2 linked regions of the Homo sapiens genome follow. The protein of the gene in region 1 interacts with the protein of each later gene in a pairwise test. Each region holds a gene or a part of one and is shown in the gene's direction. Other genes may lie near its edges.

What was found.
Region 2: the proteins of OR1L3 (region 1) and OTX2 interact in binary tests that used the Homo sapiens proteins (3 or more experiments, as listed by UniProt).

Annotation. Positions count from the first base shown.
Region 1 is NC_000009.12:122,673,738-122,676,916, forward strand, and holds OR1L3 (olfactory receptor 1L3), read left to right. Parts: upstream 1-1,392; coding exon 1,393-2,367; downstream 2,368-3,179. UniProt on the Homo sapiens protein: Odorant receptor.
Region 2 is NC_000014.9:56,800,321-56,804,147, reverse strand, and holds part of OTX2 (homeobox protein OTX2), read left to right. Parts: intron 1-1,792; coding exon 1,793-2,413; 3' UTR 2,414-3,827. UniProt on the Homo sapiens protein: Transcription factor probably involved in the development of the brain and the sense organs. Can bind to the bicoid/BCD target sequence (BTS): 5'-TCTAATCCC-3'.

The DNA of each region.
Region 1 (3,179 bases):
TAGATTATCTGTATTTATACTCTAAAGTCTGATCTTCCTTTACCCTAGCCAACTCCAGAATTACATTCCCCTGACCTCAGAATATGGATTATCAGCCAGAGAGTAGGAAAGCTTGGGAGAGAATTTTCTCGCAAAAGTATTCTGTCCCCCTCACTCTCTCATTCCCCGTGTTTCTTTTCCCTGTAACTGTTTACATTCAACTCAGTGTTCTCTAAGTGAGTTTCTTGCTTCCATTGTAAATGATGTGGAAAGAAACATCTGGACTTAAAAGAAAAGGTATTCATCAATTACAAGCTAGGTGAGATAACTATCTTGTTACCTAGATGTGGTTTAGCCACTCAGAATCCTTAATCAGAAGATGGCCTGAACTTGATTCAAAGTCTTTATCTGTGGTTCCTGTAATTACCAGCCACAGAGTAAGTAGGAGGAGAAACTTATCAGCCATTCGCTCCCAATCTCTTTCTCTCTTTCTCTGTCTGTCTGTCTGTCTCTCTCTTTCCTTGTATCTGTTCTCTATAGATCTTGCTATGGGTTAAATGTTTATGTCCCCCCAGAAGTCACTTAATCCCCAATGTGATAGCATTTGGAGATGGATATTTGACAGGTAATTTAGGTCATGAGGGTTGGGGCCCTCCTGATGTGATTAATGCCCTTATAAGAAAAGCTTGCTTCCTCCCCCTGCTTTCTGCCATGCAAGACTACAAGGAGAAGACAGCCCTCTGAAAACCAAGAAACAAGCCCTCTGCAGACACTGGATCTGTTGGCAACTTGATCTTGGACTTCCCAGCCTCGTGAACTGTGAAAAGTAAATGTTGTTTAAGCCACCTAGTCTATGATTTGTTTGTTTGTTTGTTTTTTTGAGACCAAGTCTCGCTCTGTCACCCCGGCTGGAGTGCAGTGGTGCAATCTTGGCTCACTGCAACCTCTGCCTCCCAGGTTCAAGCAATTCTCTTGCCTCAGCCTCCCTAGTAGCTGGGACTACAGGCATGCACCACCAGGCCCGGCTAATTTTTTGTATTTTTAGTACAGACAGGATCTCACCATGTTGTCCAGCCTGATCTCGAGCTCCTAACCTCAAGTGATCCACCCACCTCAGCCTCCCAAAGTGCTGGGATTACAGGCATGAGCCACCGCATCTGACCTGGCTATGGTAATTTATTATAGCAACCTGAACTGATTAAGACAGGTATCTACCTCAAAGATCTTTTAAAAAGTGAAAACACACTTTCAGTTCTGATTCTCCATGCTCAGGAAGAAAAATAAACTACAGAGTAAATGCTCTATTAATAACTACTCAGTGTAAGAACAACGTGGAAAGATGCATGTTGTAGATGACATAAGAATTATGTCATTAATTGACAGTGTTGCTTATCTTTAGGTGAGTACAAGTCCATGGGAATGTCCAACCTGACAAGACTCTCTGAATTTATTCTCTTGGGACTCTCCTCTCGGTCTGAAGACCAGAGGCCACTCTTTGCCCTCTTTCTTATCATATACCTGGTCACTTTGATGGGAAATCTGCTCATCATCTTGGCTATCCACTCTGATCCTCGACTTCAAAACCCTATGTATTTTTTCCTAAGCATCTTGTCCTTTGCTGATATTTGCTACACAACAGTCATAGTCCCAAAGATGCTCGTGAACTTCTTATCAGAGAAAAAGACCATTTCCTATGCTGAATGTCTGGCACAGATGTATTTCTTCCTGGTTTTTGGAAACATAGATAGTTATCTCCTGGCGGCTATGGCCATCAACCGCTGTGTAGCCATTTGTAACCCATTCCATTATGTCACTGTTATGAACCGCAGATGCTGTGTGTTGCTACTAGCATTCCCCATCACTTTCTCCTATTTCCACTCTCTCCTACATGTCCTCCTGGTGAATCGGCTCACCTTTTGTACATCAAATGTTATCCATCATTTTTTTTGTGATGTCAACCCTGTGCTGAAACTGTCCTGCTCCTCCACCTTTGTCAATGAAATTGTGGCCATGACAGAAGGGCTGGCCTCTGTGATGGCTCCATTTGTCTGTATCATCATCTCTTATCTAAGAATTCTCATCGCTGTTCTCAAGATTCCCTCAGCAGCTGGAAAACACAAAGCCTTCTCCACCTGCAGCTCCCATCTCACTGTGGTGATTCTGTTTTATGGGAGTATTAGCTATGTCTATTTGCAGCCTTTGTCCAGCTATACTGTCAAGGACCGAATAGCAACAATCAACTACACTGTGTTGACATCAGTGTTGAACCCATTTATCTACAGTTTAAGAAACAAAGACATGAAACGGGGCTTACAGAAATTGATAAACAAGATTAAGTCTCAAATGAGTAGGTTCTCTACAAAGACCAATAAAATCTGTGGACCCTGATTACAAGGTGTGTGTGTGTGTGTGTGTGTGTGTGTTAGCACCTGATGCCACTCTTTTCTTGAAAAAACGTTCCTTCATCTTCACCATTTGTAGCTTCACCTCGTGGTTTTCCACCCTGTGGTCTCTGTCATCGTATGATTGAACAATTAGGATGTCTTGGTATCAATGCCCCAATCACAGACTCACCTCATAATATATCTTAATTCCAGAAAATCACATTCCCTTTACTCTTTGCATATTTATTTGGAGCCTCTCATATTTCTTTGTGTTTATAAATTCATCCAAGTTTGGTCTTTCAATTATCAGAGAATTTTCCTATATACCTATGTAGAAATTTAAATATGTGCAATGATATTATGCACACATAGTCACTCTCTTCTATTTAAAGCTGTCAGGAATTTTTTGCAGGCATGTGTGTATGTATGTACAAGTCTCACCTGCCCATGAGACTACAGGCTATGGTCCCCCTCTCCACCTTTTTAGAGACAGGGTCGTACCCCCCTGTCACCCAGGTTAGAGTGCAGTGGCACTATCATAGCTCACTATAACCTCAAACTCCTGGGCTCAAGCAATCCTCCTCCCTCAGCCGCTCAAGTAGCTAGTACTACAGGTGTGTACCACCACCCCTAGATAATTGTTTTAATTTTTTGTAGAGACAAGGTCTTGCTATGTTACCCAGGCTGGTCTCAGACTCCTGGCCTCAAGTGATCCTCCTGCTTCAGCCTCTCAAAGCACTGGGATTATAGGCGTGAGCTACCATGCCCAGCTTTATGGTCCCTTTTTAAAATTATCACAAGAACTGAATGTCCTGG
Region 2 (3,827 bases), on another chromosome or scaffold:
CACCCTTCCCGAGTATGGGACTGTGGAGAGCCCCAGGTCTTTCAGAGGACTGAAGGAAGGCTTGAAATTCTCCTTCACTCACTAAGGGGCCAGGAAACTATTCTCCTTCTGCCCTTTTTTGCCTGCCCGTCACCACTTAATCCCGTAAGCAAGGGTCTTCAAGGCCCGGGTTGCTGGTGGAGAGAGACCCATCCTTGAGCAGGTTTCAAGAGTAGTCACGTGGTGTTGTAACCCTTCCCTTCCTCTGTATAGAAATCCTCTCCTATTCTCATGGACTTGTACGTGTGAAAGCAGCTTAGCTCTTGGACAGTCCAAGTATTTTTACAGATGAAAAAATAGAGTAAATGACTTGCTCAAGGTCATAACTAAGTTTGGTGGCAGAGTCAGGGTATAGACGCAGCTGGTGCTTTTACCAAATAAATCAACACAAAAAGAATGTATTTTCCTTGACTTCTTAGGGATTGAAGAGAATTTTCTAGTTCTGAGCCATTTAACAGATAAAATATCTACATAATGTCTCTAGTGACACCCCTCTTGTTTTAGTTCCCCTAAACTTGACCTTAAACTGGAGAGGGAAGGTCAACTCCAGCTTGCCTTGTGAGTGAGCCCTGTACAGAATTCTCTGCAAAGTGTTTAGCACATAAACCACATACACACCTGGGCCTCTCCTTCGGCTAGAATATGTTTATGAAAGCGACAGACATCAGTGTCAGCTGCAAATTGGGAAAGGGGCTTTTTCAAAGTAGGTTAGAGGAAGTTTTAGCACTTGCAAGGCTTGAACCAAAGTCCTCACTAGGAGAAAACAAATGGCTCCAAATGGTTGGTGGTCTTGAGCTTGGCCTTGGTGGCCTCACTTTTACCACAGTTACGGCACCCATACAGAGAGCTCATTCAAAAGTTCAGCTAAGGATTTGTCCTCCAGAAAATGCCAGTAGTTCCTCTTCTAAGCCCCCTCGTACACCAATCATAGCTCCTTCATTGCAGAACATGAACAGGGCTGGTAAAGAGAATTGTCAAGATTGCAGCAGGGGGTTGAAGTGGTAAGTCAGTAAACACAGCACAGGAGACTGAGTCTATGTGCTGAGTGGCACTACTCTAACAACACAGACTCGAGTCCCAGAGACTAGCAGGTCTGTGCTCCAGCTCAAAGCAGAGTGCATGTAAGTCACTCCTTTTACCACAAAGAAGCTTTTAGCAAATAGTGGCTTTCAGACCTCTTTCTTCAACAAGATCATGTCTTCCCCTTGGAGCTTTGTTCTGTGAGTCTTTCTAAGAGAGACAGAAGGGTGATGGAACCAACCAACCTCTATATTAGCAGTTGCTTCCTGGAAGATGAACTGTAAATGAATTTAGGCTGTTCCTGTTAGCCTGTAACAACAGAATTGCTTTCTCTCACTTCTCATGTATTTCCCTCCAAAAGACAGAGATACATTCTATTCCTCTGTGAGAGTGTTCCAAAATATAGCTGGGTCTATGTGTATGTGTGTGTTAGAGGCGAAATAAGATAGGAAAGTGATGTGGAGAGTTTTTAGCTATATGATTTGGGGGATTATCTTAAATGTTATTCTGGGCAAGAAATAAGACAGTGTCAAGTGTTTTTAGACAGAGCCTCCCCAACTTTCTTACAAGTCCAGGAGTTTATATGAGAGTACCACATAATAGGTCTTCAGTGGCAGGGGAAATTGTGTGTTTAGCTGATCTGCCCATGTAGGATAGATTTATAATACGGGAGCCATTCTTGTCCTTAAGGAACTATCAAAACCGAGTTAAAGAATTTTCTTTCCCTTCCAAGGTATGGTTTAAGAATCGAAGAGCTAAGTGCCGCCAACAACAGCAACAACAGCAGAATGGAGGTCAAAACAAAGTGAGACCTGCCAAAAAGAAGACATCTCCAGCTCGGGAAGTGAGTTCAGAGAGTGGAACAAGTGGCCAATTCACTCCCCCCTCTAGCACCTCAGTCCCGACCATTGCCAGCAGCAGTGCTCCTGTGTCTATCTGGAGCCCAGCTTCCATCTCCCCACTGTCAGATCCCTTGTCCACCTCCTCTTCCTGCATGCAGAGGTCCTATCCCATGACCTATACTCAGGCTTCAGGTTATAGTCAAGGATATGCTGGCTCAACTTCCTACTTTGGGGGCATGGACTGTGGATCATATTTGACCCCTATGCATCACCAGCTTCCCGGACCAGGGGCCACACTCAGTCCCATGGGTACCAATGCAGTCACCAGCCATCTCAATCAGTCCCCAGCTTCTCTTTCCACCCAGGGATATGGAGCTTCAAGCTTGGGTTTTAACTCAACCACTGATTGCTTGGATTATAAGGACCAAACTGCCTCCTGGAAGCTTAACTTCAATGCTGACTGCTTGGATTATAAAGATCAGACATCCTCGTGGAAATTCCAGGTTTTGTGAAGACCTGTAGAACCTCTTTTTGTGGGTGATTTTTAAATATACTGGGCTGGACATTCCAGTTTTAGCCAGGCATTGGTTAAAAGAGTTAGATGGGATGATGCTCAGACTCATCTGATCAAAGTTCCGAGAGGCATAGAAGGAAAAACGAAGGGCCTTAGAGGGGCCTACAAACCAGCAACATGAAATGGACAAACCAATCTGCTTAAGATCCTGTCATAGTTTTAGATCATTGGTTATCCTGATTTGCAAAGTGATCAAAAGCATTCTAGCCATGTGCAACCAAACACCACCAAAAATAAAATCAAACAAAACTAAGTTGTGAAGGAAGGGAGGGAAGGTCATAGCCTTCTTAAGCAGAGGTGTTCCATTGTTTTAGCCAATCCTTGGTTGAATCTTAGGAATGAACAGTGTCTCAAGCTCATTCACGTTTCATGACCAACTGGTAGTTGGCACTGAAAAAACTTTTCAGGGCTGTGTGAATTGTGTGACTGATTGTCCTAGATGCACTACTTTATTTAAAAAATAATGTTCATAAGGAGTCAATATGTAGTTTAAGAGACAATCAGTGTGTGTCTTATAAATGGTACATCTGTGGTTTTTAATCTGTGCTAGACTTCAAAACTGTGATCTCCTGTTATTGTATGCAACCTTGAACTCCACCTCTGCAGGGGTTCTTCTGTGATTAAATAGGTTATAATTATAAGCAAAATTCAGAGCAACTGAGTACTGATCTAAAAAGATTACCTTTGGCTGGAGGTGAGCTGCACTGAAACTTTACGACAAAATGTCTCTGGACAAAGAGAGTCAGAGAAGAGAAGCAAAAGGACACTAATTCATCTGTAATTTACTGTTGGTAAGCCTAGCAGTAAAGAGACATTGGTCAATTGCTCTGACCCTGATGAATTATTAAACTGAGATCATTGTCGTTTATGCTTGCAGATGTTAAATGGAAAAGTTATATATGCATAAACCTTTTCTTCCTGGATTTGGCAGATATGTATAATTATATTAAAATGGTTCTAGCACAACATTGGGTCCAGTTTAATTTTACACCGCTATTTATGAATAAGAAGCCTACATTCAGCCTTTCCTCCCCAAAACACGTTTTTCTTAGGACAGAGAGTAAATTAGCAAACTTATTTTTACTTTTTTTTTTTGCTAATCTATGCATAAAATAGATATGAATGACAGTGGTAGGTAGACTTTTTGTGACTTTCATCAGGATTGCTCTGAAATTGAGTTTGGAGAGCCTAACAACAAGATCTTGTTTTCCTTGCTTTTCCCTCCCTACTTCAAACCTGAACGATTTCTTAGGCACTTTATTAGAATGTTTTAAAATATATCAAGTTTTTAAGAGGGAGGAGGAGAATTGGAGTATCTCTGAAAACATGAGAATGACAAGAATTTCTTGTTA